3 separate regions of the Homo sapiens genome follow, and regions 2 and 3 are each linked to region 1. Evidence: fine-mapped expression QTL. A gene starts in region 1. Each other region holds a variant in brackets. All regions are shown on one strand. Distances are from middle to middle.

The links. PIP is the estimated chance that this variant, and not a neighbour inherited with it, causes the effect.
Region 2: its variant is fine-mapped to the expression of AKR7A3 in subcutaneous fat (GTEx, PIP 0.95).
Region 3: its variant is fine-mapped to the expression of AKR7A3 in ovary (GTEx, PIP 0.97).

Annotation. Positions count from the first base shown.
Region 1 is chr1:19,284,044-19,292,207 of GRCh38, reverse strand. It overlaps AKR7A3 (aldo-keto reductase family 7 member A3), which reads left to right and starts at 3,438. Exons shown (of 7, transcript NM_012067.3): 1 at 3,438-3,712; 2 at 5,836-6,023; 3 at 6,216-6,320; 4 at 7,094-7,190; 5 at 7,423-7,522; 6 at 8,083-8,164. The coding sequence starts at 3,499. LOC124903867 (a long non-coding RNA gene) reads right to left here and starts at 4,148. Exons shown (of 3, transcript XR_007065521.1): 1 at 3,848-4,148. RefSeq lists enhancers at 2,561-3,382, 3,383-4,205, 7,706-8,164.
Region 2 is chr1:19,637,970-19,646,141 of GRCh38, reverse strand. All of the region lies in intron 1 of MICOS10-NBL1 (MICOS10-NBL1 readthrough), which reads right to left. NBL1 (NBL1, DAN family BMP antagonist) reads right to left here and starts at 1,831. Exons shown (of 4, transcript NM_005380.8): 1 at 1,696-1,831. RefSeq lists a silencer at 1,746-2,085 and an enhancer at 1,984-2,819. The variant G/A (reference allele first, on the strand shown) is at 4,731.
Region 3 is chr1:19,223,203-19,231,377 of GRCh38, reverse strand. EMC1 (ER membrane protein complex subunit 1) reads left to right here. Exons shown (of 23, transcript NM_015047.3): 16 at 1-117; 17 at 415-534; 18 at 3,928-4,065; 19 at 7,809-7,982. The region is part of intron 1 of EMC1-AS1 (EMC1 antisense RNA 1); the gene reads right to left. Among named protein-coding and RNA genes, the nearest start is that of EMC1-AS1, 17 kb to the right of the region's middle. The variant A/G (reference allele first, on the strand shown) is at 4,758.

The DNA.
Region 1 (8,164 bases):
AATTTGTAGTGGTGTCTCTTCTGCTCTTTCTGGTGTGGTTAATCTGTGTATTCTCTCTTTTATTCCTGATCAGTCTAGCCAGAGGTTTATCAACTTTAGCGATGTGTTTATAGAACTACTTCTGGTTTTACTGACTTTTGCTGATGTTTTTGTTTTATATTTCATTTATTTTGGCTTTTTTTTTTCTTTGAGATGGAGTCTTGCTCTGTTTCCCAGGCTGGCGTGCAGAGGAGTGATCTTGGCTCACTGCAGCTTCTGCCTCCCGGGTTCAAACGATTCTCCCACATCAGCCTATTTTGGCTATTATTTTTATTATTTCCTTTCTTCTGCTAATTTTGGTTTTACTTGACTCTTCCTTTTGTGGTTTCTTAAAGTACAAGCCTCGGCCGGTGCAGTGGCTCACACCTGTAATCCCAGCACTTTGGGAGGCTGAGGCGAGAGGATCCCTTGAAGCCAGGAGTTCAAGACCAGCCTGGCAAACATGGTGAGACCCCTTCTCTACTAAAAATACAAAAATTAGCCGGGCATGGTGGTGCATGCCTGTAATTCCAACTACTCAGGAAACTGGGACATGAGAATTGATTGAACCCAGGAGGCTGAGGTTGCAGGGAGCTGAGATTGCACCACTGCTCTCCAGCCTGTGTGACAGAGTGAGACTGTGTCTCAAAAAAAAAAAAAAAAAAAAGTAAATGCTTACATTATTGATCTGAAATATTTCTTCTTTTGTAATATGTCAAAGTGGTGCTATAAATTTCCCTCATAGCACTACTGTGGCTGCATCTCAGAAAATTTGATATGTCCTGTTTTTACTTTCATTCAGTTCAAAATATGATCTAATTTTCCTTGTGATTACATATTTGACCCATGGGTTATTTAATTTCTAAATATGTGGGGATTTTCCAGATATCATTCCATTATTATTTTCTATTTTTCCTTTTTCTTCTATTTGTTAACTTATTTACTTATTTTCAGTTCCCTCTCAGGCTCTAAATTCTGTTATTCTTTTCTTTTCTTTTCTTTTTTTCTTTCTTTCTTTTTTTTTTTTTTTTGAGGTAGAGTCTTTCTCTGTCACCCAGGCTGGAGTGCAGTGGTGCGATCTTGGCTCACTGCAACCTCCGCCTCCCAGGTTTAAGCAATTCTCCTGCCTCAGCCTCCTGAGTAGCTGGGATTACAGGCACACACCACAATGCTCGGCTAATTTTTTTGTATTTTTAGTAGAGATGGGGTTTCACCATATTGGACAGGCTGGTCTTGAACTTCTGACCTCAAGTGATCTGCCCACCTTGGCCTCCCAAAGTGCTGGGATTAAAGGTGTGAGCCACCGCACCCAGCCTGTGTTATTATTTTCTAGTTTAATTCCATCGTGTTCAGAGATGTACTTTGTATGATTGGAATCCTTTCAAATTTATTTATTTATTTATTTATTTATTTTTAATATGGAGTCTCACTCTGTTGCCCAAGCTAGAGTGCAATGGCCTGATCTCGGCTTACTGCACTCTCCACCAACCAGGTTTAAGTGATTCTCCTGCCTCAGCCTCCTGAGTAGCTGAGATTACAGGGGCACGCCACCACGCCTAGCTAATTTTTGTATTTTTAGTGGAGACGGGGTTTCACTGTGTTGGCCAGGCTGGTCTCAAACTCCTGACCTCAGTTAATCCACATGCCTTGGCCTCCCAAAGTGCTGGGATTACAGGCGTGAACCACCGCTCCCAGCCTCTTTTACATTTATTAAGACTTGTTTTATGCCTCCAAATATGGTATATCTTGGTGGATGGGCACTTGAAAAGAATGCATATCCTGCTGTTGTTGGATATTCTATTCATGTTGTTTATGTGGAATTGGTTCATAGCATTGAGTCTTGTATACCTTTACGGAGTTTCCGTAAATTATGACTGATAACTGTTCTACAACTATTGAGAATGGTGTGTTGAAATCTCCAATTATAATTTTGTATTTATCTACTTGTTCTTTAGTTCCATTATTGTTTTTCATGTATTTTGATGATCTATGCTTAGGTGCATATATATTTAGAATTATATCTTCTTTATTAATTGACCTCTTTGTCATTATGGTATGTCCCTCTTTGTCTTTGGTAGTTGTTGTTGTTGTTGCTGTTTTGAGACAGGGTCTCAATCTGCAGCTTCGACCTCCCAGGCGTAGATGATTCTCCCACCTCTGCCTCCCAAGTAACTGGGACCACAGGTGCATGCTACCACAATTTGATAATTTTTAAAATTTTGTTGTAGCGATAAGATCTCCCTGTGTTGCCCAGGCTAGTCTCAAACTCCTGGACTTAAGCAATCCTCCCTTCTCAGGCTCCCAAAGTGCTAACATTACAGGTGTGGGCTAGTATGTCACCCACTGTGTGGGCCAGTATTCTTTGTTTTGCAATCTACTTTGTCTGATATTCACTTAGCCATTCCAACTTCTTAAAATTTAGTTTTGTCAGTGTATGTCTTTTCCCATCTTTTTGCTCTTAAACTATCTCTGCTTTTATATTTGAATAGCTTTCTGGTATTTACCATATAGTTTGGTTTTGCTTTTTTATCCATTCTAACAATCACTGCCTTTTACTTGTGAGCATTTACATCATTTATATTTATGTAATTATTGATATGATTGGGTTTAAATCAATTTTGCTATTGGTTTTTCATTTGTTCCATCTGTCTATTGGTCTTTTTTTTTCTTTTGTATTTGGAGACAGATTTGCCCTCTGTCACCCAGGGTGGAGTGCAGTAGAGCTATCACAGCTCACTGCCGCTGGGCACTGGTCCATTTTTCTATCTTTTTTTTTTTCTTTTGAGACAGGGCCTCCCTATGTTGCCCAGGCTGGGTTCAAACTCCTGGGCTCAAGTGATCCTCCTGCCTTGATCTCTCAAAGTGTTGGCATTACAGGCGTTAAGTCACCAGAGCCAGTCAGTTTTTTTTCACTTAGGTACAGAATTCAATGCCAACAGTTCTTTTCTTTCAACACTTTAACCATGTCACTCCATGGGGACGCTGTCTTGAGCCTTTGGTAAGCCTCATTCTCCAGGACCACACGGCAGGCGCGACAGCCCTAGGTCCACCCCACCCCGTAAGCGCTCCCTCCGGGAGGAGACAGAAACCCAGGACAGCTCCGGGGCAAGGCCGAGGAAGGAGGGACGACGGGGCAGGGAGGCCCGAAGAGTCCCCGCCTTTTGGGATAGTCGCCACCCTTGGACCCCCTCACCCTTGGGGACGTTGAGGAGTGTTAAAATCTCCAAGACGCGAGTCACCGGTACGAAGCCACAGCCATTTCGCTGCTTGCTCGGTGCAAGTGCAGAAGGTCCTAGTAGCCGAGCGTGGAGTCGAGCTCGTGGGCGGCGTCGGGCACCTTCGGCCGCGCCCTCAGCTGCACCCGCCGGTGGGCGGGGCCCGAGCCCGTCTCTAAAGCCACGAGGCCGCCCGCTCCGAGCCTGGTGCTTCCGACCGCTGCGCGCGGCTCCTGGGCTGTCACAGTCTCCCGTTGCCGCCGTCATGTCCCGGCAGCTGTCGCGGGCCCGGCCAGCCACGGTGCTGGGCGCCATGGAGATGGGGCGCCGCATGGACGCGCCCACCAGCGCCGCAGTCACGCGCGCCTTCCTGGAGCGCGGCCACACCGAGATAGACACGGCCTTCGTGTACAGCGAGGGCCAGTCCGAGACCATCCTTGGCGGCCTGGGGCTCCGGCTGGGCGGCAGCGACTGCAGAGGTAACAGTGGCCCCTGATCCTCCCCCTGCACGGTGCAGAGCTGAGCCTGTCCACAGCCGTGTACCGCCCCGCTCTCCCTGGCCCCGGGGCAGCACCCAAAGTTTTGTCCCCCCCACCGCCCCCACCCCTGTTCACCTCGCAGCCTTGGGAACACCAGGCTCCTTAGGCACGTCTAGCTCCGGACAACTTTTCTCTCGTCTTCTCTTCTGTTCGTCTCTCTTCTCTTCCGGGAGGTAGCCAGCACCCTCACTGACGCCTGGATGACTTGGTCTTGCCTGGAATGACTTGGCTAGCCCCTCTCTGGAGCACAAAAAACACTGGGATCTGGCATTGTGCAGCTCCTGTCCCCACCTGTGCCCTCCAGGTGCCCTTGACGGGCCTGATCTGCAGAAATTCTGTTCTTACCGCCTGGCACTCCCTGGCACAGTCCAAAATCAGAGTTTGGACCCAGCACACTATCTGCTTCCTCCTTTGCACATGCCAGCCTGCTCGGGGCCCCGGACTTTGCTCTGAGTACCTTGTGGTACTCACAAGGGCACCTCACAAGGGTGGCAGTGCCCGGAAGCCTTGGCAGCTCCCTCAGGGGGATGAGGGATTGGGGTGGTACAGAGTCTCACTGCCCTCTCTGTGGGAGGCTCTGTCGGAGGCTATTGGAGAGAAATGGACACTAACCCACTCCAGGAAGCTCCAGTTCTAGAGATGGCTGGGGAGCCCAGAGTGACCCCTTCCTGGGAGGGACCCCGTGAAGAAAGAATGGATAGGAGTTTGCCAGGAAGAGTACAAGGGGCAAGGGCGTCAGGGCAGTGGGCATGGGTGTGGAAAGGCAAATGTGTTTTGGCAATGCCGCGGGTGCTGGAGGAGGCAGGTGTGGCCGGAGGGGAGGATGTGTGTATAGGGGCAGGAGGAGCCGCCCTCAGTCTGATGCCATTTGCAGTGCTTAGGCCGATGCCTGGCAGGCACATAGTGAGGGCTGGGAAATGTTAGCTGTTTGTTTGTTCTTAGTATTAGCACCATTTGCCTCCTTCCACTGAGTGTCTGAGTGGAGTCTTATTTCTCCTCTGATTCACCACATGGTAGATCCAGAACGAACCTGGCCTGTGCGTGCATCCCAGTGCCACGCTCTTTCTAGATCACCCGGCTGCCACTCAGTGAGAGCTCTAACCATATTTCTGATTTTTTTTTTTTTTTTGAGACAGGGTCTTGCTTTTTTGCCCAGGCTGGAGTGGAGTGGTGCGATAGGGCTCATTGCAGCTTTGACCTCTCAGGGCTCAAGCCATCCTCCCACCTCAGTCTCCTGAGTAGCTGGGACTACTACAGTAGCACCACACCCGGCTAATTTTTTGTATTATTCATTGAAACTGGAGTCTCACTTTGTTGCCCAGGCTGGTCTTAAACCCCTGAGCTCAAGTGATCCTCCTGCTCTGGCCTCCCAAAGTGCTGAGATTACAGGTGTGAGCCACCACAGATCTGTACCCTCTGCCTGGCCCTTATTTCTGATTTTTTTTTCTTTCCTTTTTTAATCCTTCTTTGTCTTCTGTCTGAGTCCAAGGTTGGCTGGCGAAAGTCCTCAGATCTGATCTGAAGTTAAATTCAATTGAGAAGCAGAGGGGTGGTGGTGGAATGGAAAAATTCCATATGAATAGTTCCTCAAACCTGCTCTTTGCTAGGCCTCAAGGGCTCCAGTGACTGCCCTCCTGCCAGCCTAGGTGACTTTCTAAGTGTGAAAAGTGGGAAGAGGACTCTCCACTCACCTGTTAGTCCAGTTCACTAGGAACTAAGATTCTTTTTTTTTGTTGTTTGTTTTGTTTGTTTGTTTGTTTTTTGAGAAGTCTCACTCTGTGAGACATTGTGCTGTGGCACAATCTCGGCTCACTGCAACCTCCGCCTCCCGGGTTCAAGCAATTCTCCTGCCTCAGACTCCGGACTAGCTGGGGACTACAGGCGGGCTCCACTATGCCCAGCTAATTTTTGTGTTTTTATTAGAGATGGGGTTTCACCATGTTGGTCCAGCTGGTCTTGAACTCCTGACCTTCTGATTTGCCTGCCTCAGTCTCCCAAAGTGCTGGGATTACAGGCATGAGCCACGGCGCCTGGCCCTGAATTTCATTTCTCTTTCCTCTCAGTGAAAATTGATACCAAGGCCATTCCACTGTTTGGGAACTCCCTGAAGCCTGACAGTCTCCGGTTCCAGCTGGAGACGTCACTGAAGCGGCTGCAGTGTCCCCGAGTGGACCTCTTCTACCTGCATATGCCAGACCACAGCACCCCGGTGGAAGAGACACTGCGTGCCTGCCACCAGCTGCACCAGGAGGTGAGGGGACCCCTGAGCTCTGGGAGGTGGTCCACTGCTGCTCTCCTTATCCTGATCCTAATGGTGAGAGCAGAGGCACCAGGGCTGTTCCAGGGTGGAGCAGGGAACAGCCCAACTCCCAGGGGCCCCACCCTGGCCTCCCTTTCCTGGTCTGGGCTGCACTATGTTCTGACTGGAGCCTCACCTGAGCAGGGCAAGTTCGTGGAGCTTGGCCTCTCCAACTATGCAGCCTGGGAAGTGGCCGAGATCTGTACCCTCTGCAAGAGCAACGGCTGGATCCTGCCCACTGTGTACCAGGTGAGAGCCAGGGCTGCAGAGGCCAAGGTCTCCAGAACTCCTGCTCATCCTGGGCTGTCTTTGCCCCTCTGACTGCCCCCTGTGCCCTCTGCATAGCAGCCACTCCCCTGCTGAAAGCCTGCAGATGGCTCCCAGGTACCCTCAGGATGCCATTCAAGCTCCTCAGGCTGGCCACTGGGCATCTGCTTCCTTCCTGCCTATCTGTGCACCTTGGACCCTTCCTTCCCTACCTTCCCCTGCACTCAGCCTGGAACAAGCCCTTCCCCCACCACCGCCCCTTCCGTGAGAGAATGGTTCAGGTCTCACATACGTGTCTCTTCCTCTGGAAGCCTTTCTAGATGGGCCCAGAAGACCCTGAGACCTCAGGTCCTTGTTTACCTCCTCATGATTCATTGCACAAATATTTGCACACCTGCTTGGTGCCAGGCACTGGTCACAGAACTTTCTAGTCTATTATGATTGCCTCATGACTTGATTATAACTGTTTATACTTGACCTTATTATAAAACCTTGAGGGAAGGGACCCTGTCCTTTTGGCTTAAGAATCTAAATCTGACAACCAGCCCATAGTTGGTGCTCATGAAAGTTGGCAGAATGAATGAATTTTCCATGGGCATAAGCTTCTTTCACCAGCACCAGTTAGAATAAGTATACGCCCAGACGGTTAAAGTCCTAGAATTGTTAAGGTCTGAAATAAGGGTTCTGGAAGGGTAATTTTGAAGTCTCTTCTTTTGACACATCCACCCTCTCCCCCGGGGCCCCTCTCCTTACAGGGCATGTACAATGCCATCACCCGGCAGGTGGAAACGGAGCTCTTCCCCTGCCTCAGGCACTTTGGACTGAGGTTCTATGCCTTCAACCCTCTGGCTGGTACGTGGAGCATTCCTGGCCCTGTCTCAGCCTATTCCCGACCCACAGATGCCCAGCCCAGGACCTGGGAAGCAAGGAGGGTTTGACAAACTTTGACCTCTGAGGTCAAAGACGTAAAGGCTGCATCTTCAGCCCTCCTGGGTCCCTGCCCCTCCCCTAGACCAGAGCCCTGAGGGATGTGGCAGCTTCTGGGGCACTCTAGGCCCCGGGGCTGATTGCTGCTTTCCCTCAGGGGGCCTGCTGACCGGCAAGTACAAGTATGAGGACAAGAATGGGAAACAGCCCGTGGGCCGCTTCTTTGGGAATACCTGGGCAGAGATGTACAGGAATCGGTAAGCTGTGGGTGCTTGGTGTGGATGGCTGGGGTGGGGTCAGCTTTATGTGGAATGAAGTCCTGGGCTGCTCCTGGGGTAAGGCCTTTCCTCGCTGCTGCACCTACTCCCCTGAATTTCTTCGGGAATTTCCAAACCCTCCATCGGTTTTCTTGTTGTCTTGGGACCTCCAGGAGGAAAGGAGACTCCCTGGACCTCGGGGTCTTGAAGTCGTTGCTCTTTCCTGAGCAATCACCTGCTAGGAAGGAAAGAAGGAGCTCTGGAGGGAGGTCCAGGAGGCCTGGGGCTGAGTCCTGACCCATCTTAGCGGCCTTTGTGTCCCTAAGGAAAATAAGAGCAGGCTGATGAGTCCTCAGGAATAAAGATTTGTTGAGGTCTCTGCTGAGGGGCCCAGCATCCTGAGTGGTTCTCTTGCCCAGCAAAGTGGGAGACCCATGGCTAGAGAGAACACCTGCCCCTCAGGGCTGCAGGGTGTGGGGTGGGACAGTGGCCCTGGTTGGCTCTTTGGTTGTGGCTCCCAATGTGGCCCTGACACCTGTGCCACCGTCCCCCCTTCCCAGCTACTGGAAGGAGCACCACTTTGAGGGCATTGCCCTGGTGGAGAAGGCCCTGCAGGCCGCGTATGGCGCCAGCGCCCCCAGC
Region 2 (8,172 bases), 350 kb before region 1:
AGAGGGCGGACACACAGGGCCGACCCCGTGCCACCCAGGCCTGCCTGCATCTTCCAGCCCTGACCACCTCTGTGCCAGCCCCCAAACCCAGGCCACGGCCCTCCTTACCGCAGACCCTCCTGCCCGCAAACGAAAAACAGTCTCCAAAACAAATCCATGCTAATGAGCTGCTGCAGGGCCAGGCTGCACATCTGCTCAGCAGAAGTTCCACTGCAGACCTCACCAACAACCCTGCCCGCTCCGGCAGCCTCCGACCCTTGAGGTTGTGGGTGGGGGGAAGCAGCTAAACTCAGCCTGAAATTTCACTTTAAAATAATGAGGCGATATCCCTGGCCGATGCAGAACACCTACTCCCCTGTCCACCCCTCCAAAACACAGGCCCGGGAGAGAGGTCCAGCTTGCAGGGGTGGGTGGAGAGGGGTAGGGGTCACCGAGGAAACGCTGCAGCCTCGCCTTTTCTTTGGCCCCAACTCAAGGCAAACCACGCCCAAGCAGCCCCAGCATCTGGGGGAGTCTAGGGAGGCCCCATTCCGCAGTAACAAAGGGTGAGGGGCTCCTTGTTGACAAATTGCTTCCCCGCCAGCGCCCGGTCTTTGGCCTCCAGCCCTGACCTCTGTTTTCCTGGGGTGCCCCTAGTTACAGGCTGGTGGCGTCCAGCTTGGGGAGCGAGGGCCTCCGAAAGCCTGGAAGTGTGGCTTTCTCCCTTGATGCCCGCCAACCTCCGGCCACGCCAAGGCAGGCGGCTGCCCCCTTTGCCGCCGCTTGTAAACGATCAGAATCGCCCCGCCCTGGGAGCGGGCCGGGCAGGTGGCCCGCAGCAGGGCCTGTCGTCCAGCCGGCCTCGCGGGGGTGGAATTCTTAAGAAAACTGAGCCCCCGGAAAGGCTGGCTCTCCCTGCCCCAGACTCAATTCCAGGGAGATGACCCGGGCCAGGCCTCGGGGCCGGCGGGAGGCAGGGGGAGGGTTTGCCGCACCCGGTCTAGGAAACTATTCGTGAACCCCGCTGGGGGAAGGCGAGCCTCCGACACTGGGGGATTGTCTGGATCGGAGGGCGGGGGATCAGGGAGAGGCGCAGACACAGGGCGAGACCCCCACAGAGGGCAGCGCAGAGACAGAGAGAGGGAGAGAAAAGCCAGAGGCAGAGACACAAACGCGGGCAGCCGAACACGGAGGCAGGCGGGGAACGGAAAGAGACGGGCAGACCAGGGGAAAGTGAGCGGCGGAAACGGAGCGACGGAGAGACAGACACACGGACGTGGGGACCGAAGCAGAGGGGGCCGCGGGAGGCGGAAACGTCCAGAGCCGAGAGGCGCGGCGCGGCGAGGCCCGGGCACGGCCGGGGGACATGCGAGCCCGGCCCGCCCGGCCACGCATCTCCCTCCCTCGCTCCCTCTCTCCCCCGGCCGCGGAAACTCCGATCCAGAAACGGAACCCTGGGGCGAGTCTGGGGACGGGCTCCGGACGCGGCGGTGCCCCCCGGCCACCCCGTGCCGCGCCCACGTCCCCAGCGCCGGCGTCCGGAGGCGCCCGCCAGGTCCCCCAGGGCTCCTGAGCTCGGCGGCGGCGCCTCCACCCGGTGCCCGCGGCCGCCGGACGCGCCGGGGGACGCAGCTCCGGGCTGGGGGCGCGGCACTGCCCCCGCGGCCGAAGCCTCTGGAAGCCGGGCGCCCGCGTGCCGACCCGGGCGGGACTTACCGCGCGCGCCCGCCGGTCCTGCGGAGCTGGGTGCGGGGGTCGCGGGCCCGGGCGCCCCAGGAGGCTCGGCGAGGCGGCCGGCAGGGCGGGGGGCGGCCCCGCGACGCTCGGCTGGGCTGCGCTGCGCGCTGTCTGCGGCCCCGGGCGGGCGCGCGGCGCGGGGGAGCGGCTCCGACGTCAGGGTGGCTCCCTCCAAACAGGGCGCGAGGGCGGGGGCAGCGGGGAGGGCCGCGCGCAGAAAGAGCGGGCGGGCGCGCGCGGCCTCTCCCTCCGGGTGCGCAGGAGGGGGCGCCGCGGCGGCAGGGGCCCCGGGCCCTCTCCTGGCCCGCCCGCCCCGGGCTGAGCTTCGGCGCGCTCCGACGGCGTGGTGGGGCGGCCGGGACGCCTGGCCGGCGCCCGAGAGGCAGGGCAGCCCAGCCGGGCGCCCTGGCCCGTTCTTAAGCGCCCTCCCCGGGTTTCTCTGCGCTTCCACTCTCTCCGCCCGACTTTTACCGAGCCTGGGCCGTCAGGCCGTGCCAGGCCTCGGGGTGACAAAGATGGATGTGTCCTTTTTGTGGGCACCGGGCATTGCAGACTTGCCCCGAGAGTGGGGCGCCCCAGCCCGCCGCGTCCCGGCACCAGGAGTCCCCAGTTCTGCGGTGCACCTCATCCCGTCCGCTCCGGCATGCGACCCGGTTCAAGTCCGTGCTGTTGGTAGCCTGGGTTGCTCAGCCTTGCCTAGTGTTATCCTAGTGTCGCTCTCGGCCCCACGCCCTTGGCTTAAGCATCCCGAAAAGCCCCAGGGACTTATTAGGAACTAAAAAGCCAGCAAATGAACTCACTTCTCTGACTCCTGGGAAGAGTGGAGCTCCTGGCCCCAGCTTCCAGCCTCACCTCGGGGGTTCCTATCTAATCAGTGGGCACTTGGGTGGATTGCGGCCGTACCTTCTCTATTCTGTGTGCTTAACAACGGGGTGAGAAAATAACTTTGCTTCTGGAAAGTGGTGGCCCAGGGACACCACTGGGACACGATTGTAGGACTTGGGGATTTTGCTTTACAGCATAGTTACCTGTGTCCATGTGTTTTACCTAGCTTGGCTGGAAACTTCCAGATAGACACAGCCCTGCTTGTCTGACTCATGAGGTTGCCGGGCATCCTGGGTGGCTCCTAGTGGCCTGCTGGGAACTCCCTGGTGTACTCCAGCCTACTCGCACCCTCCACACCCAGCCTGCATCTGCGCCTCCTAGCTGTTGCCTGCGCCCTTCCCTCTGCCCGGAATTCCCTTCCCCTCCTTTCATCTCTGGCAAACATTCTTCCAGCTCCAGATTGGAAAGCCTTCCCAAGACCCTTTGGGAGCATCTCCCTCCTCCAGTGTGATCCTGGAGCACAGGATGAGAACTTCTGTTCATGTCAATTTCCCTCTAGAATAACTGTGTACATCTCTTGGGCAAACATTCTTCCAGCTCCAGATTGGAAAGCCTTCCCAAGACCCTCTGGGAGCATCTCCCTCCTCCAGTGTGATCCTGGAGCACAGGATGAGAACTTCTGTTCATGTCAATTTCCCTCTAGAATAGCTGTGTACATCTCTTTCCTCCATTAGACCTTGAGGGCAGGAATCGTGTTTATTTCAGTGTCTCCATTGCTTATGGGCAGGCCAGGTGAGATGTACAATGTATTTGGTTGAATGAAGTTGTTGTTGTTGTTGTTGTTGTTGTTATTATTATTATTATTAGAGACAGAATTTTGCTCTTGTTGCCCTGGCTGAAATGCAATGGCGTGATCTCGGCTCACTGCAACCTCTGCCTCCCAGGTTCCAGCAATTCTCAGCCTCCCGAGTAGCTGGGATTACAGACGCCCACCACCACGCCCAGCTAGTTTTTGTATTTTTAGTAGAGATGGGGTTTTGCCATGTTGCCCAGGCTGGTCTCCAACTCCTGGCCTCAAGTGATCCTCCCGCCTCAGCCTCCCAAAGTGTTGGGATTATAGGCATGAACCACCACGCCCAGCGAATAAAGTAATTATTATCCCCCATTAATGTAGCACAGATAGGTCTTCCCTTAATGGTAACTATGACCGTTATAATAGTTCACACATATTGAGCACCTTACCATGTGCCTCATCCCATTGCAAGCTGTTGCCACTCTCACAATAAACCTATGAGGTAAGTATTGTCTCTGTTTTAAAAGTGCCAGGCGCAGTGGCTCATGCTTGTAATCCCAGCACTTTGGGAGGCCAAGGCAGGAGGATCACTTGAGGTCAGGAGTTCGAGACCAGCCTGGCCAATATGGCGAAACCCTCTCTCTACTAAAAATACAAAAATCAGCCAGGTGTGGTGGCGTGTGCCTGTAGTCCCAGCTACTCGGGAGGCTGAGGCAGGAGAATCACTTGAACCTGAGAGGCGGAGGTTGCAGTGAGCCGAGATCGCACCACTGCACTCCAGCCTGGGAGGCAGAGTGAGACTCCATCTCAAATAAATAAATAAATAAACAAACAAACAAATAAAATAATAAAAGTGAAAAAAATCCCGAGGCTGGAGGATCACTTGATCCCAGGAGTTTGAGGCTGCAGTGAGCTATGATTGTGCCACTGTACTCCAGCCTGGACAACATTGCAGAAGGCTAATTGTGGAACCTAATGAGCTTGTCACTCCAGCAAGGCCTTGTCTCAAAAAAAAAAAAAAAAAGTGAAAAAAGGAACGTCAAGAGAAAGGTTAAGTAACTCGCCTAAAGTCACACAGTAAGAGCCCATGCCAGCTAGTGTCTGTTGGATAACTATATACCATGTACGGCAGAAACCAGCCTCACTGCACTGTACACAGTAGACACTCAGGAAATATTTACCATTTTGCAGCCAAAGCTTACCCCCGCCATCTTTCATGCAGACCCCGAGCAGGGTAGAAAGTAGAGTTCTACATTTTGTAAGAATCCACTCCCACATTGCAGAAAGCTAATTGTGGAGCCTGATGAGCTGGTCAGATCACACATAGAGCCAGGAGTAGAAGCCACAACTTCCAGCCAGTGCCCTTGACAGGGCAGCCCACCATCTCTCAAACACC[G/A]GGAGGTTCAAGAACAACACCAACCCCCTAATCAGGGACAAAGGGTTTGGAGTTGAGTCACCATCTGTCTGGTGACGGGAAAGCTACAGTGTGGGCAGGGGGCCTGGGAAGTAACTTGGTAGTAATATCTACCCATTTTGTGCCAGGCATTATGCTGGTCACTCTGTCTGCTTCATCTCCTCTAATCCTTACCACAGTCCCATCATTGTTCCCATTTTACAGGTAAGAAAAATCGAGGCACCAAAATGTGTCATTACCTGCTCAAGACCACATTGCTAGTGATTAACAAAGCCTGGACTTGAGCCCAGACCTGTCAACACCAAAGTCCATGCTTCCTTGCCCACCACACCCTCTCCACCCTCTCGGCTGCCTCAGTGCTCCTCCCCATCAGGCTGCAGCAGGGATGCTGCACTGAAGATGGACCCCAGGGGCCCCAGCGGGAAAGGCAGAACCTGTCACGTCAGAGTGTCCCAGCTCGAGCAGATGCACCTGGTTGGCAGTGGTGTTCCAGCTGCCCCTACAGGCCTGGCTGGCACAGGGCATGGGCCTGAGGCCAGAGCCTCCTGGCCCTGGGCCAGCCTCTTGGGGCCGAGGTAATGTGGGGCCCAGAGCTGGGGCTCAGGGCTAAAAGCCCCTCTCCCCAGCTCATTAGCAAACATCTGGGCTCAGGAAAATGACCGACCTGGAATGTGACTGAGCTGTGGGGAGCTGCTCTCTCCCAGAGTCCGGGAATGTGAGCTCCCTCCTGCAGGGCACGGACTCAGCCCAGCTGTTTCCTCTAATCCTGTCAGTCTGGCCTCAACGGGGGTCCAAACCTCTGCACTCTCGCTGGAGAAATAGAATGAAAACAAGCAAAAGGCCTGTCTTCCCAGTCCAGCCCACTGAACAGAGGGTTGGTACACAGTCCCTCTCTTTTTATGATAAAGATGAGAGCGTTCACACCTCCAGGTATGGAGCTGGGAGGAGCCATTCGGACTCATCAGGGGAGGCTCAGGGTTTACATTGTTCCTGCATCGCCCTCTGACTCTGTGCTAGTTGTTTCACACCTGGGCCTTGGTTTCCTTATCTGTAAAATGCAGTTAGTAGTGCTATGTACTCCATAGATTTGTTGTCTGGAGTCATTCATTTATCCAACAAATACTTATTGTGCCTGTTATGTGCCAGACATGCACAGAGGTGTTGAGGACACAACAACAGACTAGACCAATAAGGTCCCAGCCTCCAAGGAGCTTATGTTCTGCCACACCCAGGCAGATTGTGCAACAGATAAACAGATGAGTGGATCTCACATAACCAATGTGTTCTGAAGGTTCCAGGTTCAGTTGTTTAATATTTATTTAAAAGAGCCAGGCGTGATGGCTCACGCCTGCAATCCCAGCACTTTAGGAGGCCGAGTTGGGTGGATCATTTGAGGTCAGGAGTTCAAGACCAGCCTGGCCAACATGGTGAAACCCCGTCTCTAATAAAAAGACAAAAATTAGCCCGGTGTGGTGGTACGTGCCTGTAATCCCAGCTATTTGGGAGGCTAAGGCAGGATAATTGCTTGAACCTGGGAGGCGGAGGTTGCAGTGAACCGAGATCATGCCAGAGCACTCCAGCCTGGGTGATGGAGTGAGATTCTGTCTCGAAAAATAATCATCATAATAATATTTATTTAAAAGAAAAAAAGGAGAGGCCAGGCGTGGTGGCTCATGCCTGTAATCTCAGCACTTTGGGAGGCTGAGGCAGGTGGATCACCTGAGGTCAGGAGTTCAAGACCAGCCTGGCCAACACGGTGAAACCCCATCTCTACCAAAAATACAAAATTAGCTGGGTGTGGTGGTGCGTGCCTGTAATCCCAGCTACCTGGGAGGCAGAGGTTGCAGCGAGCTGAGATCGCACCATTGCACTCCAGCCTGGGTGACAGAGCGAGACTCTGTCTCCAGAAAAAAAAAAAGAAAAAAAGGAGAAAAAGTATTATGAACGAACTAAGCCAGAGGGGGCGATGTGATGGGGGAGGTATGAACTCACTGAGAAGCCTCAGAAAACGTCGCAAAGAGGTGACACTTAAGGTGAGATTATAATGAGATGGAGCAAGGATTCAAGGAGATAAATGGATGCAAAGCTCTCGGCACAGTTCCTGGAAAATAGCACGTGCTCCATAAAATGAAAGCTATTTCAGGGAGGTTTCATATATATAGCTCAGGAAAGGTGCTGGAGTCAGATGCCCTGGATCAAATCCAGGATTCAGCACAAAGCTTTCTCACCTTACTCCAGTAATGCATCTCTTGAGCCTCAGTTTCCTCATCTGGAAAACAGGAATTGTAATAGGACCCATCCCCAGGATCACCCAGAATTCACTGAGAGACGTGAATGTGAGGCACAGAGCCGGCACACGCTTGGCTCTCAGGAAGTGGTAGTTACTATGGTGGGTTGTTTGTTTGTCTGAGGTGGACTCTCGCTCTGTCACCCAGGTTGGAGTGCAGTGGCGCGATCTCCGCCCACTGCAACCTCCACCTCCCAGGCTCATGAGATCCTCCCACCTCAGCCTCCTGAATAGCTGGGACTACAGGCATGTGCCACTACGCTCGGCTAATTTTTGTATTTTTAGTAGAGATGGGGTTTTACCATGTTGGCCAGGCTGGTCTCAAACTCCTGACCTCAGGCAATCTGCCCACCTCGGCCACCCAAAGTGCTGGGATTATAGTCATGAGCCACTGAGCTCAGCTATATTATCCTTTTTCATAGAGGAAAAAAGGATTTGCCCAGATCCACTCAGCAAGTCAGCAGAACATCCAGGACCAGAAACAGGTGTTCTGACTTTGAGCCCATCCACCTGGGCTGTGTCCTCTAGCCTCTTCCTCCCTGCTGGTGGGCTCAGGAAACCTTGGGCCCCATTTTGGACTCAGAAGACTCAGAAGGAGAAGGTGGCCATGCACTGTGAGTTCCACAGTACGGAGCCTGTGCTGTCAAGGATTGCAGAGGGTCTTGGCCTGGACGGGAGAGCAGGAATGAGGCCCCAAGGACTCCATGGGTCCTTGGCCCCATGGAAAAATGTCAAATGTTCTTTGTAGGGTCAGATACAGTGGCTCATGCCTATAATCCCAGCACTTTGGGAGGTCGAGGCAGGAGGATCACTTGAATCCAAGAGTTCGAGACCAGCCTGGACAACATAGCAAGACCCTGTCTCTAAGAAAAAAAAGAAAAAAACTAAAAATTAGCCAGGTGTGGCGGCATGTGCCTGTAGTCCCAGCTACGTGGGAGGCTGAGGTTGGAGGATCTCTTGAGCCCAGGAGTTAGAGGCTGCAGTGAGCTATGATTTTACCACTGCACTCCAGCCTGGGTGACAGAGAAAGAACCTATCTCAATAAATAAATAAATAAACAAACAAAATAAAATAAAATAATAAAATACTATTTGTAGGTAGGGTGAGACACCAAGAATCAAGAAGGGAAATCAAGGC
Region 3 (8,175 bases), 61 kb after region 1:
AAGTGGAGTCAGGTAGCTCCCCCAGTGCTGAAGCGCCCCATCTTGCAGTCCTTGCTTCTCCCAGTCATGGATCAAGACTACGCCAAGGTGTTGCTGTTGATAGATGATGAATACAAGGTACTGTCTTCAGAGGGGATGGAGAACATGCTAGCGGAGTCCGGTTTGGGGCCAGGTGGTCAAACACAGCGGCCCGGAGATGGAGTGCTCTCTGCACCCAGCACGTGTTTGGGCTCTAAGGCCATCCCGAAGAGAAATGATGGCTGTGTCTGCATTTGTGAAAACTCAGGTTCTTAACAGAACTGAATGTAAACCCTAAACTGAGTTCAAATCAACTGATTTGCAGTTTTATTCTTAAGGCTCTCTTTGATGGGGAAATTTCCTAACTCTTTCCTTGGGCTCTCTGGGTTTTTCAAGGTCACAGCTTTTCCAGCCACTCGGAATGTCTTGCGACAGCTACATGAGCTTGCCCCTTCCATCTTCTTCTATTTGGTGGATGCAGAGCAGGGACGGCTGTGTGGATATCGGCTTCGAAAGGTAGGAAGGCATGTCCTGGCACAACCCTTTGTGGATGAGATGCAGGTGTTTCCTGGCCATTTGGCTAAGAAGTGAATTATGCTACTCATTCTACTGTAAACTTAGATTAGCATAATCCTGATGTCTGATACAAAGTCAATCATTTGTTCATATTTGTTGGGCAGCTACTACATGGCAGATACGGTTCTAGGTGCTGTGGATGGAGTGGTGCACAGTAGAACAAATCTCTGCCCTTGTGGAGCTTTCATTCCACATTCTTTTTCTTTTTTTTTTTGAGATGGAGTCTTGCACTGTCGCCCGGGCTGGAGTGCAGTGGTGCGATCTCGGCTCACTGCAACCTCTGCCTCCTTGGTTCAAGCGATTCTCCTGCCTCAGACACCCAAGTAGCTGGGATTACAGGCGTGCGCCACCGCGCCCGGCTAATTTTTTGTATTTTTAGTAGAGACAGGGCTTTGCTGTGTTGGCCAGGATGGTCTCAAACTCCTGACCTTGTGATCCACCTGCCTCAGCCTCCCAAAGTGCTGGGATTACAGGCGTGAGCCACCGCGCCTGGCCCCATTATTTTTCTATAGCAGAGAGATGGGACTTTTTTTCCATTCTTGGGAGGGTAGAAGGTAGGAATGTGGGTTGAGTAATAAGTTGTACTTTTATATGAAGATGATGTTGACCAACTCGTGATGGAATGTGTGCTTTGAATTTTATTTCTAGAAAGGGGGTCAGTTTGCTTTAATCCTCACATACTTGAGACCAACTCTTGTAAACAGTAATACACGCTGGCTGTGAAGTCCAGCTCTGAAGTTCACGAGGGGCTGGCATGGCCTTGTTAGCAGGACTGTTTGGAGAAGTACTCTGTGGTGTGTACTCACAAACAGCTCTCCCATCCTGTCCTGTAAGGCCTTTTGAGAGGCATAGAGTTTAACCAATTTGCTAGATTGGAAGTCTAGGTTTGTCACTTACTAACTTTGTGACCTTGGGCTCTGGTCTTCTGTTTTCTTATCTGTAAAATAAGGTGATAAGTACCTGTCTCATAAGGTTGTTGTGAGAATTCAACACATAAATCACATAAAACTGCCTGGCACATGGTAAATGCCATCTGAGTTGGAGGTGCTGTTGTTTTGAAAATGCAGCGCCCTTTTGTGACATTTGTAACAGCTAACCTTAGCATAAACAGCACTGGAAATGGTCTGCCCAGAAGACACATCCTTTACCCTTGTGAATGAAAACATAAATAAATAAAATCATCCTTCTGAGTTAATAAAAAGAGGACCTTGAAAGAGACAGTTTTGTAGATTCAGGGGAGTGAACTGGAGTGTGGGTGTCATGAATCTGGAGTCCTGAGGACATCATCTGAGTGAACAATGACCAAGGAAGACAAAGGAGGCAGAGCTGTCTGTGGGAAGTGAGCCAGCTGTGTGCGCGAGTCCGGGACCACAAGGGAGTGTGCTGCCTTTGCCCTCACTTGGTGACCTTCCTCTCTGGGGATGTTTTAGTGAGTTCTTATGTTTTCAAAGAAGGTTGTGGCAATGAAGGCTTATTATTAATAATTTTCACTATTTTAAAAATTTAGGTAATACATTGAGTATATTCTCATTGTAAAAGAGTCCATTGATACAGAGAGGTGAACAAGCAAAATGTGAACAGACCCTTGTAGCCCCATTCCCAGCGGTCTTCCCCTCCCCAGGTGGAAAGCCTGTCAGCAGTTTGCTGTGCCTCTTTCTACTGTCCTTGTGTATTTATGATTCCCTATCAACAGCTGTGTGGACACACGTGTGTGGCTCATACTTTATTTATTTTTTTTTAGAGACAGAGTCTCGCTCTGTCACCCAGGCTGGAGTGCAGGGGCGCAGTCTCAGCTCACTGCAACCTCTGCCTCCTGGTTTCAAGCGATTCTCCTGCCTCAGCTTCCCAAGACTACATGTGCACGCCACCATGCCTGGCTAATTTTTGTATTTTCAGTAGAGACGGGGTTTCACCATGTTGACCAGGCTGGTCTCAAACTCCTGACCTCAAGTGATCCTCCCGCCTCGGGCTCCGAAAGTGCTGGGATTACAGGTGTGAGCCACCACGCCCGGCCCATTTTATTTTTTTTTCTCATTCACATGCAATTGACCTATATTTATTCTTATGAAATTTGCTTTTTTTCATTTAATGGGTTTTCTACCTCATTGTTTTGTCAACTTCAGTTTTTTATTACAGAAAAATATTGACAAAAGTGCAAAATCATGAGGTATGGCTCAGTGAACCCTCACCAAGGGAATACACTTGTGTACCTGGTGACCACTTCAGGAAACAGAATAGCACCAGCTCCTAGAAGGCCCTTGTGCCCTTTGCCAGTAACTACCTCCTGTCTCCACCCCCAAGGGCTCCGCATAATTCCATAGGATGGATGTATAATAATGTATTTAACCATGAGTGTTTATTGGTTGGTTTCCTATGACCATAAACAATCATACACGAAATGTTTTGAGCTCCCTGTTAGCTTAGACATTCACTGCTGGCCCCAGTATACAGGGATCTTGGAGTTTAGTAATAAATGGTAAATTTTCCTTGCATATTTCCTACTCAGATAAACAACGGGATACTATTGAGCGTTCGCCTCCTTTCCTACTGGCTTTATTATCTTTTTTTTTTTTTTTTTGAGCCGGAGTTTCGCTCTTGTTGCCCAGGCTGGAGTGCAATGGTGCAGTCTCGGCTCACTGCAACCTCCACCTCCTGGGTTCAAGTGATTCTCTTGCCTCAGCCTCCTGAGTACCTGGGATTAAAAGCATGCGCCACCACACCCGGCTAATTTTGCATTTTTAGTAGAGATGTGGTTTCTCTATGTTGGTCAGGCTGGTCTCAAACTCCCGACCTCAGGTGATCCACCTGCCTCGGCCTCCCGAAGTGCTGGGATTACAGGTGTGAGCCACCACGCCCGGTCTAGTATCTATCTTAATCAAACCGAGAGTTCTGAAATTTCTTCATAAACTAGATCTCTATTGCTGTTTTTCTGGTTTATTTTTTGTTTTGAGTCTTGCTCTGTCACTCAGGCTGGAGTGCAGTGGCGTGATCTCAGCTCACTGCAGCCTCTGCCTCAGCCTCCCGAGTGGCTAGGATTATAGGTGCCTGCCACCACATCTGGCTAATTTTTTGTATGTTTAGTAGAGATGGGGTTTGGCCATGTTGGCCAGGTTGGTCTTGAACTCCTGACCTCAAGTGATCCGCCCGCCTTGGCCTCCCAAAGTGCTGGGATTACAAGAATGAGCCACTGCTCCTGGCTCATTTTTCTAGTTCTGATCTCTATTCCTTCCTGCACAAAGGCCTCAAATAATGAACTGTAGGATGTGTCTAACTCCAGCTGTTTCAGTTCTAAGTGTACCCTCCTGATTACAGGCTTTTTTGCCCCTGCCCTAGGATCTCACCACTGAGCTGAGTTGGGAGCTGACCATTCCCCCAGAAGTACAGCGGATCGTCAAGGTGAAGGGGAAACGCAGCAGTGAGCACGTTCATTCCCAGGGCCGTGTGATGGGGGACCGCAGTGTGCTCTACAAGGTACATACAGCCAGCTGTCTGGTCTACAGCAAGGGCTTTCGAATCAGGAAAACAAGGGCTTCAAGTCTGGCTGTAGGACTTGGTACATATATGACCTTGAGTAAGTCATTTAATCCCTTTGAGCCTTAATTTTTGTTTGTGAAATGGGGATAATATACCCTCCTCCTGGGCTTGTTGTGATGATCACATGGGATGTTCATGTCTAGCCCAGTGCCTAGCATATGGTAAGTAAGCAACAGATGTTAGCTCTTATTTTTTTGACTTTTTTTTTGTTTGTTTGTTTCCTGTGACAGAGTCTTGCTCTGTTGCCCAGGCTGGAGTGCAGTGATGCAGTCATGGCTCACTGCAGCTTCGTCCTCCTGGGCTTATGCAATCCTTTCACCTCAGTCTCCCAAGTAATTGGAACCACAGGCACATGTCATGCTAATTTTTTAAAAACGGCTGGGCTTGGTGGCTCATGCCAGTAATCCCAGCATTTTGAGAGGTCGAGGTGGGTGGATTACTTGAGTCCAGGAGTTTGAGGCCAGCTTGGGCAACATGGCTGAAACCTTGTCTTTACCACCCCCAAAAAAAAAAAACAAAAAAAACAATTAGCTGGGCATGGTGGTGCATGCCTGTGGTCTCAGCTACTCGGGAGGCTGAGGTAGGAGGATCACCTGAGCCTGGGGAGGTTGAGGCTACAGTGAGCTGCA[A/G]TTGTGCCGCTGCACTCCAGCCTGGGTGACAGAGTGAGACCCTGTCTCCAAACAAACAAAAAAAATTTTTTTTAAATTTTTTATTTTTGTAGAAGATAGAGATCAACCTAGGAAACATAGTAAAACCCTGTCTTCAAAAAAAAATTTTTTTTTAATTTTTTATTTTTATATTGACAGGGTCTCACTATGTTGCCTAGGTTGGTCTCTATCTCCTGGCCTCAAGCAGTTCTCTTACCTTAGCCTCCCAAAGTGTTGAGGTTAGAGACTTGAGCCACTGCGCCTAGCCCAGCTCTTATTACTAGTGGTAGTACTGATAGAGCATTCTGGGGTTAAACCATAGTCGAGCCATCAGAAACTCCATCTCTGTGATCCAACACTCTAGTTAGTGTTAAAGAGAGGGAGATTAAGGTGACTAGTGGGCTGCAAAACTGTTATGGGAGAGAATGTAATGATAGTAGTAATGCACATTAATTACACCCTCTGGTACAGCAGAGACTGAATTGGAGGGGGTGTCATAGAATAGAGATCACGGAACTTGACGGTAAAGCTGGATCACTAAGCATGAGCCAGTGCAACACAGTGCAAGCCTCTAGTTTGACTGTTAAGACTTGGCTCTGCCGTGGCCTAGCTGTTCATCTCTTAGGCTGCCTGAGCTTCAATTTTCCCCAGTATAATGGGGATAATAGCACCAACGTCAGAGGATTGTTTTGAAGATTAATGATAACATGTAAAGTGATTAGAATAGTGCCTGCCACATACTTAACATTATTATTAGTGCTATTGACTCTTTTTTTTTTTTTTTGAGACAGGGTCTTGCCATGTTGCCCAGGCTGGAGTGCAGTGGTGTGATCACAGCTCACTGCAGCTTTGACCTCCCGGGCTTAAGCAGTCCTCCCATCTCAGCCTCCTAAGCAGCTGGGACAACAGGTGCATGTCACCATGGCTTATTTTCTTTTCTTTCTTTTCTTTTTTTTTGAGATGGAGTCTTGCTCTTTCACCAGGCTGGAGTGCAGTGGCACGATCTTGGCTCACTGCAACCTCCACGTCCCAGGTTCAAGAGATTCTCCTGCCTCAGCCTCCCGAGTAGCTGGGACTACAAGCGCGCACCACCATGCCCAGCTAAATTTTGTATTTTTAGAGATGGGGTTTCACCATGTTGGCCAGGATGGTCTTGATCTCTTGATCTCGTGATCTGCCCGCCTTGGCCTCCCTAAGTGCTGGGATTACAGGCGGGAGCCACCGTGCCCAGGCACTTATTTTATTTTCTTTAGAGATGGGGTCTTGCTGTGTTGTTCAGATTGGTCTTAAACTCCTGGGCTCAAGCAATCCTCCCATCTTGGCCTCCCAAAGTGTTAGGATTACAGGCATGAGCCACCGCACCCGGCCAGCAGCAAGCAGTTTTTGAGTGCTAGCTGGATGCAGGCACTCATTTAGACACTGGGATATAAAATGGGCAAAACAGACAAAACTTCCTGACCTCGTGAGGCTTTCATCATAGTTGGGTGAGGCTAATAATAAAGAAAATAAATAGGTAAATTAGATAGTATATTAGAAAGTGACCAGTTCTATAGAGAAAAATAAAGCCGGGAAGAGGGAAAGCAGGTACAGTGTAAGTCGGGTGGCTAAGGAGGGGCTTAGTGAGAAAGTGGCACGGAGTGAGTGGACTTGAGTGAGGAAGTGAGTTGTGTGGGTAGCTGCGGGGAGAGCCTTCCAGAGAGAAAAGTCAAAGTGCTCCTGGTATGTGTGAGAAACAGCAAAGAAGACCAGGTAACTAGAAGATGATGAGTGAGGAGGCATGTCAGGCCTGCTGAGGGCAGAGGGCAACAGGGCCAGATCACAGGCCACCACCGTGGCCTTCACTTTGGAGCACGGTGAAGAGCCACTGGGAAGTTTTCAGCAGAGGAGTGACATCAGTGACTGAGATTCCACAGGCTCATTTGACCTAGATTAGACTGTAGAGGGGTGAGGAGGAAAGCAGACCATTTAGGCTGTGGGGTCATCCAGGTGCTGATGGTGGCTGGAGCTGGGCTGGTAGCATGGAGGTGGGAAGGAGGGATCAGGTTCTGGGTACTTTTGAAGGTAGAGCCAAGAGCAGGTATATGTGTGTTACAGAGAAAGGAGTCAAGGATAACTCGAGGCTTTAGGTCTGAGCCACTGATGTATGGAGTCGTGACTGGCTGGGGAGGAGAGAGGAGCAGATTTTAGGCAGGAGTTAGAACAGTTCAGCTTGGGCCATGTTAAGTTTCAGATGAAACATCTGAGAAAAGATACTGAGATAATTTCTTAGTGAAGTCTGGAGTTCAAAGGAGTATCTGGTTTGGATATATACATTGGGCATTGCCAACATCCATAAATGGTGTTCAAGCCATGAGATTGGCTTGAGATCACCACGAGGGTAAGTGTGACGGAAATGCTCAAGGCTTGAGAGCTTTCTGATGTGTTCCACCATGAAGAAACTGGGGAGATGTGGAAGAACCTCCAAAAGAGACTGAGAAGGAGAGGCCAGTAAAGTAGAAGGAGTGCTGGGCAGGGATGTTCTGGAAGCCAGGTGAGAAAATGTCGCAAGGAGGTAGTGATCACCTGCGTCACGTGGTACTAGTGGGTCAAGTAAGTTGAGGGCCAAGACTTAGCCACTGGATTTAGCGATGGGGAGGGGGGTGGTGACCCTCAGAAGAAAAATATCACTGCAGCATTTGTCCCTAGGTCAATGAGTGGGCAGACCTGGATTTTGTCTTGGGTTACCATTTGCTATCTGTGACTTGAAAAGCTGCTTAACTACTTTGGGACTTTTCTGCAAAATGTGGACCATAATAGCTACTCTGCAAGACTGTTTAAGGGATTAGATAAAATACAAGGTACCTGGCATGGCACCCAGTACCCAATGCACATAAAACAAGTGCAGTGATGAGAAATTCCAAACAGGAAGCTCTTTTCACCAGAAACCCTGATTCCTCTGCCAGGCTGGAGAGCTCCAGGTTGGTCTCACAGCACAGGAATGGAGTGTGTGATGAGTCGTCGTGGTTCTAAGGGAGGTTTTCTCTCTCTCTCCAGAGCCTGAACCCCAACCTGCTGGCCGTGGTGACAGAGAGCACAGACGCGCACCATGAGCGCACCTTTATTGGCATCTTCCTCATTGATGGCGTCACTGGGCGTATCATTCACTCCTCTGTGCAGAAGAAAGCCAAAGGCCCTGTCCATATCGTGCATTCAGAGAACTGGGTGGTGGTAAGCGGTCACTACCAGGGACCCAAGGTAGCTCCAGAGGTCTCCCTGCCTCCTGAGTCCTTTCCAGAAACCCAGTTGCTGCTTTGGTTTTCTTAGGATCTCAAATTCCCTGGATGGCAGCAAAGCGTGCCGGTTAGGGCACTGGGCTCAGGAATCAGATTGCCTAGGTTTAATCTTACCTCTTCCGTTTCCT